2 separate regions of the Homo sapiens genome follow, and region 2 is linked to region 1. Evidence: fine-mapped expression QTL. Tissue or cell type: blood mononuclear cells. Region 1 holds a variant in brackets; the other region holds the start of a gene. All regions are shown on one strand. Distances are between the middles of the regions.

Evidence for each region. PIP is the estimated chance that this variant, and not a neighbour inherited with it, causes the effect.
Region 2: RAD50 starts here. The variant in region 1 is fine-mapped to the expression of RAD50 in blood mononuclear cells (TOPMed, PIP above 0.99). The same link has a PIP of 0.9 or more in whole blood.

What each region holds. Positions count from the first base shown.
Region 1 is chr5:132,345,171-132,350,798 of GRCh38, reverse strand. MIR3936HG (MIR3936 host gene) reads left to right here. Exons shown (of 8, transcript NR_110997.1): 5 at 842-984. Among named protein-coding and RNA genes, the nearest start is that of MIR3936, 18 kb to the left of the region's middle. RefSeq lists a silencer at 4,791-4,963. The variant G/A (reference allele first, on the strand shown) is at 2,614.
Region 2 is chr5:132,555,086-132,560,085 of GRCh38, reverse strand. RAD50 (RAD50 double strand break repair protein) reads right to left here and starts at 3,109. Exons shown (of 25, transcript NM_005732.4): 1 at 2,633-3,109; 2 at 719-802. The coding sequence starts at 2,761. It also overlaps a transcript of IL5 not described here. RefSeq lists an enhancer at 2,826-3,486.

The DNA of each region.
Region 1 (5,628 bases):
ATTGTCTCATGTAATCCCCACCCAAATGGAATTGTTATCATCCCTCTTTACAGATGAAGAAGCTGAGTTTTAGGGAAGACTGTAACTTGCTCAAAGTCACACAGCTGATAGAGAAGTGACACACCCAGCATCAGGTCCTGGAACACTTGTCTCCAAAGGCTATGTACTTAGCCCTATTTGCTTTAACTGGAGTATTAGTGGGCATTACAAAAATTGATGCATATGTACAAAGGATGGTAATTTTGTCCAGTATGTTTTTGTTAATACTTTTCCAACTTGAGTTAATTTTAAGATTTTCTGTTGTACAGAATTCTTTAAAAGTTTATAGTAAAATCTATTTATCTTCAATTTCCTATTCATCTTAAAATTAAATGTCACCTATATTTTCTTCTAGCTTTTGATTTATTTACTCTTGGCTCTATTTTATTTACATTTATTACATTTGGCTCTTTAGTTGATCAGGAATTAATTTGGTATGTGGTTTATGGTGGGATACTATTTATTCCCCCAGTTTTTCCATTTTTACCAGTTCTTCAGCTTGTCGATTGTCCCAGCACCAGTCTTCAACAATGTATCATTTTCTTGATAATTTATAATTCATCTTTATCATATGTTACAATTTTTCAACACTTGGGTCTGTTTCTGTGATACCTCTTCTATTTCGTTGATTGATTTATCTTTTGTGTGTGTGTCTGTGTGTGTGTGTGTGTGTTTGTGTGTTTTCCAGGAAACCCAGAGTAGTGTAGTCATTGTGTGTTTTTATATATGTAAGAGAACATTTCCCCTTATCAATGATCTTTTTCAAAAATTTCTTAAACATATTACATATTTCTTTTTTCAGATGCTCTTTACAAATATTTTTTAACTTCTTAAAATATCTCATTGAGGATTCCGTTCCAAGATGGCCAAATAGGAACAGCTCTGGTCTGCAGCTCCCAGTGTGATCGACGCAGAAGACGGATGATTTCTGCATTTCCAACTGAGGTACCTGGTTCATCTTACTAGGACTGGTTGGACAGTGGGTGCAGCCCACGGAGGGTGAGCCGAAGCAGGGCAGGGCATCGCCTCACCTGGGAAGCGCAAGGAGTCAGGGGATTTCCTTTTCCTAGCCAAGGGAAGCCGTGACAGATGGTACCTGGAAAAACGGGACACTCCTGCCCAAATACTGCGCTTTTCCAAAGTCTTAGCAAATGGCACACCAGGAGATTATATCCTGTGCCTGGCTCGACAGATCCTATGTCCATGGAGCCTTGCTCACTGCTAGTGCAACAGTCTGAGATTGACCTGCAAGGCAGCAACCTGGCATGGGGAGGGGCATCCGCCATTGCTGAGGCTTGAGTAGGTAAATAAAGTGGCTGTGGAAGCTCGAACTGGGTGGAGCCCACCACAGCTCAGCAAGGCTGACTGCCTCTGTAGTCTCCACCTCTGGGGCAGGGCATAGCTGAACAAAAAGCAGCAGAAACTTCTGCAGACTTAAACATCCCTGTCTGACAGCTCTGAAGAGAGCAGTGGTTCTCCCAGGATGGTGTTTTAGCTTGGAGAACAGACAGACTGCCTCCTCAAGTGGGTCCCTGACCCCCATGTAGCCTAACTGGGAGACACCTCCCAGTAGCCGACTGACACCTCATACAGGCAGGTGCCCCTCTGGGATGAAGCTTCCAGAGGAAGGATCACTCAGCAATATTTGCTGTTCTGCAATATTTGCTGTTCTGCAGCCTCTGATGGTGATACCCAGGCAAACAGGTCTGGAGTAGACCTCCAGCAAACTCCAACAGACCTGCAGCTGAGGGACCTCACTGGTAGAAGGAAAACTAACAAACAGAAAGAAATAGCATCAACATCAACAAAAAGGACATCCACACCAAAACCCCATCTGTAAGTTACCAACATCAAAGACCAAAGGTAGATAAAACCACAAAGATGGGGAGAAACCAGAGCAGAAAAGCTGAAAATTCTAAAAACCAGAGCACCTCTTCTCCTCCAAAGGATCACAACTCCTTGCCAGCAATGGAACAAAGCTGGGTGGAGAATGACTTTGACGAGCTGACAGAAGTGGACTTCAGAAGGTCAGTAATAATAAACTTCTCCCAGCTAAAGGAGGATGTTCTAACCCATCGCAAGGAAGCTAAAAACCTTGAAAATAGATTAGACGAATGGCTAACTAGAATAAACAGTGTAGAGAAGACCTTAAATGACCTGATGGAGCTGAAAACCATGGCACGAGAACTTTGTGACACATGCACAAGCTTCAATAGCCGATTCGATCAAGAAAGGATATCAGTGATTGAAGATCAAATTAATGAAATAACTCAAGAAGATTAGAGAAAAAAGAGTAAAAGGGAACGAACAAAGCCTCCAAGAAATATGGGACTATGTGAAAGACCAAATCTACGTTTGATTGGTGTACCTGAAAATGACAGGGAGAATGGAACCAAGTTGGAAAACACTCCTCAGGATATTATCAAGGAGAACTTCCCCAACTTAGCAAAGCAGGCCAACATTCAAATTCAGGATATACAGAGAATGCCACAAAGATACTCCTCAAGAAGAGCAAACCCAAGACACATAATTGGCAGATTCACCAAGGTTGAAATGAAGGAAAAAATGTTAAGC[G/A]CAGCCAGAGAGAAAGGTCGGGTTACGCACAAAGGGAAGCCCATCAGACTAACAGCGGATCTCTCGGCAGAAACCCTACAAGCCCGAAGAGAGTGGGGGCCAATATTCAACATTCTTAAAGAAAAGAATTTTCAACCCAGAATTTCATATCCAGCCAAACTAAGCTTCATAAGTGAAGAATAAAATCCTTTCCAGACAAGCAAATGCTGAGAGATTTTGTCACCACCAGGCCTGCCCTAAAAGAGCTCCTGAAGGAAGCACTAAACATGGAAAGGAAAAACCGGTACCAGCCACTGCAAAAATATGCCAAATTGTAAAGACCATCGATGCTATGAAGAAACTGCATGAACTAACAAGCAAAATAACCAGCTAACATCATAATGACAGGATCAAATTCACACATAACAATATTAACCTTAAATGTAAATGGGCTAAATGCCCCAATTAAAAGACACAGACTGGCAAATTGGATAAAGAGTCAAGACCCATCCGTGTCCTGTATTCAGGAGACCCATCTCACGTGCAGAGACACACATAGGCTCAAAATAAAGGGATGGAGGAAGATCTACCAAGCAAATGGAAAGCAGAAAAAAGCAGGGGTTGCAATCCTAGTCTCTGATTAAACAGACTTTAAACCAACAAAGATCAAACGGGACAAAGAAGGCCATTACATAATGGTAAAGGGATCAATTCAACAAGAAGAGCTAACTATCCTAAATATATATGCACCCAATACAGGAACACCCAGATTCATAAAACAAGTCCTTAGAGACCTACAAAGAAACTTAGACTCCCACACAATAATAATGGGAGACTTTAACACCCCACTGTCAATATTAGACAGATCAATGAGACAGAAGGTTAACAAGGATATCCAGGACTTGAACTCAGATCTGCACCAAGCAGACTTAATAGACATCTACAGACCTCTCCACCCCAAATGAAGAGAGTATACATTCTTCTCAGCACCACATCACACTTATTCCAAAATTGACCACATAGTTGGAAGTAAAGCACTCCTTAGCACATGTAAAGGAACAGAAATCACAACAAACTGTGTCTCAGACCACAGTGCAATCAAATTAGAACTCAGGATTAAGAAACTCACTCAAAACTGCACAACTGCATGGAAACTGAACAATCTGCTCCTGAATGACTACTGGGTAAATAACGAAATGAAGGCAGAAATAAAGACGTTCTTTGAAAACAATGAGAGCAAAGACACAACGTGCCAGAATCTCTGGAACACACTTAAAGCACGGTATATAGGGAAATTTATAGCACTAAATACCCACAAGAGAAAGCAGGAAAGATCAAAATCAACACCCTAACATCATAATTAAAAGAACTAGAGAAGCAAGAGCAAACAAATTCAAAAGCTAGCAGAAGGCAAGAAATAACTAAGATCAGAGCAGAACTGAAAGAGATAGAGACACAAAAACTTCAAAAAAATCAACGAATCCAGGAGCTCGTTTTTTGAAAAGATCAACAAAATTGATAGACTGTTAGCAAGACTAATAAAGAAGAAAAGAGAGAAGAATCAAATCGATGGTATAAAAAGTGATAAAGGGGATGTCACCACCAATCCCACAGAAATACAAACTACCATCAGAGAATACTATAAACACCTCTACACAAATAAACTAGAAAATCTAGAAGAAATGGATAAATTCCTGGACACATACAGCCTCCCAAGACTAAACCAGGAAGAAGTTGAATCTCTGATTAGACCAATAACAGGCTCTGAAATTGAGGCAGTAGTTAATAGCCCACCAACCAAAAACAGTCCAGGACCAGACAGATTCACAGCCAAATTCTACCAGAGGTACAGAGGAGCTGGTACCATTCTTTCTGAAACTATTCCTAGCAATAGAAAAGAGGGAATCCTCCCTAATTCATTTTATGAGGCCAGCATCATCCTGATACCAAAGCCTGGCAGAGACACAACAAAAAAAAGAGAGGCCGGGCGCGGTGGCTCACGCCTGTAATCCCAGCACTTTGGGAGGCCGAGGCGGGTGGATCATGAGGTCAGGAGATCGAGACCATCCTGGCTAACAAGGTGAAACCCCGTCTCTACTAAAAATACAAAAAAATTAGCCGGGCGCGGTGGCGGGCGCCTGTAGTCCCAGCTACTCGGGAGGCTGAGGCAGGAGAATGGCGTGAACCCGGGAAGCAGAGCTTGCAGTGAGCCGAGATTGCGCCACTGCAGTCCGCAGTCCGGCCTGGGCGACAGAGCGAGACTCCGTCTCAAAAAAAAAAAAAAAAAGAGAATTTTATACCAATATCCCTGATGAACATCGATGCAAAAATCCTCAATAAAATACTGGCAAACCGAATCCAGTAGCACATCAAAAAGCTTCTCCACCACGATCAAGTGGGCTTCATCCCTGGGATGCAAGGCTGTTTCAACATATGCAAATCAATAAACATAATCCATCACAGAAACAGAACCAATGACAAAAACCGCTTGATTATCTCAATAGATGCAGAAAAGGCCGTCGACAAAATTCAAAAGCCCTTCATGCTAAAAACTCTCAATAAACTAGGTATTGATAGAACGTTTCTCAAAATAATAAGAGCTATATATGACAAACCCACAGCCAATATCATGTGGAATGGGCTAAAGCTGTTGACCTGATAGATATGGGTTCAAGAGGACACAGCTGAATACTGTGCTTAGGAAAAGAACAGTTTCAAAGGCTTTCCAGATTGTCAGATTTGATGATATCCTCCTTGGTGCACACCTCTCTTGGCTATGGGGCACATAAACCACCTCTACCAATCTAACTGGTTTGTGCAGTTTTTCTGATTTTGTATCTACCGGCAAAATATATCTTAAGCCATTTTTAGGAAACAGGAGGTTTAGTCACGTGCTCAACAAAAGCACAACAAATGGGGAGCATTTAATGGTGTAAGGGCTGTGAGGTGTAGCTGCTGAAACTGTAGCTAGGAGCTGCCTTGCTGCCTTCTTGCAGGCAGATTGGCCAGATGAGCCAGGCTAAAATACAATTAATA
Region 2 (5,000 bases), 210 kb before region 1:
ATATATATGTGTGTGTGTGTGTGTGTGTGTGTGTATTGTTGTTTCACTTCTATATGTGCAAAAACAAACCTATAGACCAAATTCTATGTCCTTTACACATACGAATAGTATAAACACCATAATTCAAACAATGATTCATACACAAAGATTTTTATCATGATACTTTTTTTTCTAGACAGTGGGTCTCACTATATTGTCCAGGCTAGCCTTGAACTCCTGGGCTGAAGCAATCCTCCCATCTCAGCCTCTAGAGCTATCTGGGAGTATTGGCACACACCCCCAAGCCTGGCTTATCATGGTACATTTTAATGAAAAACTGAAAGCAATCTAATGTAAGAAAATTACATAACTACTAAAGTGTTCATGCACTTTAAGTAGAAAATATCTCAGACATACAAAGCAGTATAAAGATTAAAAGAAACACTTACATACCAAACACCCAGATGATAGTTTTTTAATGACATAGGACTTCATGATAATGTTAAGTGGGGAAAAAAACCCAGAATACAAAATTAAGAGTATGACATCAGCTATATAAAACAGTATTTAAAGGAGGAGGAAAACACATGAAAATGTCAACAACGGTTACTACTGGGTGCTAAAACTGTGTGGGGCTGACTTTCATTTCTCTTTATAGTTTTCCAGTGCCAAGTTTTCTATAATAAGCTATTATCATTTTTATAATTATAAAAATACAAAATTGTACTAGCACCATTACCTTGGGATCGTGTACAAATGTATTTCCTTTGGTTCCAGGAGGGAAATCTCCAGTACAAATATATTTTAGACATTCAATGATGGTCTAAAGAAATAGAAAATTACATTATTTCGTTATAAGAGAACCACAGAAGTTTACCATAAAATATGAATTCATTACAAAAATATTATTTATCATGGAAACTATAAAAGATAAAATCTGACATTATAAAACCTGTAATAAAAATATGATTAAGTGTTAATGCTGTAAGTTCACAGAAATGCTATATAACTAAGAAGTTATCCTAATATGAAGAATTGTTACTTGGGAAAAAAATAATTATTTTCAACTGAAACCCTTTAAACTAATTTAAGTTAATAATAAGAATGGCTAACAGTTAAGTACTGTATTGTACTAAGCACTCTTACATACATTTATTTAATTCTCACATTAACTCCAGGCTGTAGGAACTTTTTGTTTAAGAGACAGGGTCTCATTCTGCTGCCCAGGCTGCAGTGCAGCTGCATGATCATGGCTTACTGCAGCCTCGACCTCTCGACCTCCTGGGCTCAAGCAATCCCCCAGCCTCAGCCTCCCAAACGGCTCGGATTACAGTCGTCAGCCACCATGCCCAGCCTGTAGAAACTTTTTTTTTTTTTTTTTTTTTTTTGTGGGGGGAGAGAGTCTCCCTCTGTCACCCAGGCTGGTGTAGTGCAATGGCGTGATCTCGGCTCACTGCAACCTCCACCTCCCCGGTTCAAGCGATTCTCCCGCCTCGGCCTCCCCAGTAGCTAGGATTACAGGCATGCGCCACCACGCCTGGCTAATTTTTGTATTTTTATTAGAGATGGGGTTTCGCCACGTTGGCCAGGCTGGTCTCGAACTCCTGACCTCAGGTGATCCACCCGCCTCGGCCTCCCAAAGTGCTGGGATTACAGGCGTGAGCCACCGTGCCCAGCTGTAGAAACTATTTTTAATCTCCATTTTATAAATGAGAAAACTAAGGCACAGAGCAGTGAGGTCACTCGCAAACAATCAGACAACTAATAAATGAAGCGAAAAAGCTGTATTGAGGCAGCCAGTCCTCATAAACACTATACAGTACTACTCTCCCTTCTGCTAGTATTTAGTACAATCCTAAGTACATAACAAGCATTCAACAAATAACATTTTTACAAAAACAAAAGTAAACAAGTTTGGCATTCAATTCTCAACCTTCTCTCTTTCTACACTCTTCACAAATCCTTCCTTTAGACTCTTCTCCCTGCTATACTGACATCGTCTTGCTTTTTCTTAAGCCACTATTCCTGACCAGAATGCCTCTTGGTTATTCTTTCCATTCAAATTTATAAATATTCCCACGGCTTTAAAAAAAAAAAAAAGTCAGTCGTGCACCAACGTTAAATTTTTGACTGAGTTTTAAGAAGAGAAGTTTTCCAAGTTAAGCCCCACTACATCAGTTACATTTTGAATTTATTTATTTTCCATGTATTATGTCTGGACAGTTGGCATACTTGGAAACTCTTTAGTCATGTATGTATCATTTTATAACTTTTAAAGGAATTCTTGTATGGGACAACTACTGGGAAGTGAATGCTATGCTTTGAAAGCAAGGAGACAGCGTTAAAAACATCAATACAGACCAAAGGGCATCCAGTGGGAACTGAACTCTGAGTGAGCGGCGACAGCTCCCGGTATCGTGGGATTCTTAAGTAAACCTTGTCCCCAGGCCAGGTCCGGACATCCTTCCGAGACTGCTTCAGGCAAACTCCTAAGGTCGCTGTAGCCTGCAGGCCACACCCTAAGGCACTTTAAGGGCCTACACCTGTGGAGCCCTAGGGACGCTTCTGCTCCTAAGGAGAGTTCTCAACTTCCCATTTTATTCTCCGAAAGATGTAGCGACCTGTAAACTGAAGGCGGCTACTGAAGACTTACCGTCTTTCCCGCCCCATTGGGTCCAACCAAAATTGTAAGGGGGCTGAAGAAAGTGATAATTTGCTTATCTTTGTCCTCTATTCCAAAACTCCGCACGCCCAGAATGCTCATCTTTTCGATCCGGGACATGTTTGCAAACGTTTCTAATCTCACCAGGGACCTGGAGCCCACAAAGGCTTAACTGAGGCCGAAGCAAGGCGTGCACGGGACGTGAGACCCGCGAATCTCAGGGTCAGGAGGATCCGGGCGGGGAGCGAGGCCACAGGACTGCCAAAAGATCCTGCCAGCCAACAGCGGGAGAGAGGGGGCGGGGGATGGAGCCTTTCCTCCCACACCAGCTGCTTTCCCCGCCGGTGGGGAGAGCGGAGGCGGGGACCAGCCTGGGGCTGCCCGCCGGGGACGCAAAGCCGTAGCCACAATGCGACCCCGCAACCGCGCACTCACAGCTTCCTGCCTCGGCCGCCCTGCGGATCACGTGGGCCTCTAGGCCCGCACGCGTCCACGCCGCTCTCCTGGGGCACGCCGGGAAATCAGAGTCCCGCGGTGCGTGCGCAGCTCCGACTTCCGGGTGCGGTACGGCGAAGCAGAGGGCTAGGTGCTGGGTGCTGTTGCCAGGGGCAGCGGACTTCCGGATCTTTGCTGGGGATGGGCAGCCTGGAGAGGCACTGACTTTTGGAAGGGGAGACCAAGACCTGTGACGGATGGCGCTTCCCAAAGCTTGATCCTGGGACTCCTGGAATGGGGGTAGTGGTGGGGTGGATTGGAGACCCAGGAAGCGGGGTCAGTTCGTGTCAAAACTATTTTCCTTTTCATTCTCATTCTCTCTCTAACGTTCGTGTAGTAATTTCCAGTGATCACATAACATGTGATGACGCCATTGCAGTGGCGGTTAATGGAATGTGCGCATGTGTATTCTTGCGCTTAGAAATACCAATTTTAATTTCTAATTGAGTAAATGTTGATAATTATAACTCACGTACACGCTCTTTGAGGTCCCCCGTAATTTTTTAGTGTAAAGGCGTCTTTAAGACCAAAAGTCTGGGAACTAAAACTAAAAGCAGTCTGCAAATATGAAGAATGTAGAGGTAATCCATTCCGATCAGTGCTCCCAGCAATAGATATCTTTAAAAATAAGGGAAAGAGAAGTTACCTGTCTCAGAAGTAACTGAGAATATTGCTTTCTTGGAAACAAACTTAATGGAGGGATATCACATTTAAGGGCCTAGAGAAACATACATAAAAATTACTGAAACAATAGTGGAGGACATTTAAATGAAACACAAATTTGGAATTACTGTAGTGGTATAATTTGCCTCTGCCTGCCTTGGAAAAATGTAGGAAATGTTTCTCCAGTCATACAATCCCAAGCAAATAATTTACAGAACCTAATACATAAATGTATGTGCCAAAGGATGCAAGTGGGGAAGACCAGTGAGAAATAGTCTCTTGCTGTACCAGGTTAAAAAAAACCGGAAAGTGTCAGTTATTACAAAATAGTTAAAATAACTAATGGAACAAAACATTAAAATTATATAGGAATGTCTTACTTGGCAAAGCAAATGTAATAAAACAATGGGAAAAGACGAAAGACCTTTTTTTATTTTAAAAATTGTAAAATACACATAAAATTTACTGTCTTGGCCAGGCGCGGTGGCTCACGCCTGTAATCCCAGCACTTTGGGAGGCCGAGACGGGTGGATCACGAGGTCAGGAAATGAAGACCATCCTGGCTAACACGGTGAAACCCCGTCTCTACTGAAAACACAAAAAATTAGCCGGGCATGGTGGCAGGCGCCGATGGTCCCAGCTACTCAGGAGGCTGAGGCAGGAGTATGGCATGAACCCGGGAGGCGGAGCTTGCAGTGAGCCGAGACCGCACCACTGCACTCCAGCCTGGGCAACAGAGCGAGACTCCGTCTCAAAAAGAATTTACTATCTTAACCAAGTGTACATTTCAGTGGTGTTAAGTATACTCACGTACAACCGTCACCACCTTTCAACCTCTACAAATCTTTTCACTTTGCAAAACAAACTACCCATTAAACAATAACCCTTTCCTCCCCACATCCTCCAAACCCTGACAACCAACATTCTACTTACTGTCTCTATAATTTTTTACTAAGTACCTCATATAAGTGGAATCATACAGTATTTATCTTTTTGTGACTGGCTCATTTCACTTATAATGTCCTCAAGGTTCATCCATGTTGCAGCTCAGTCCCCAACCCCTGGGTCACTGACCAGTATGCATACCTGGCCTGTTAGGAACCTGGTGGCACAGTAGGAGGTGAGCAGCAGGTGAGTGAACATTACCACCCGAGCTGGGCCTCAGATCAGTGGGGGCATTAGATTCTCATAGGAGCACAAA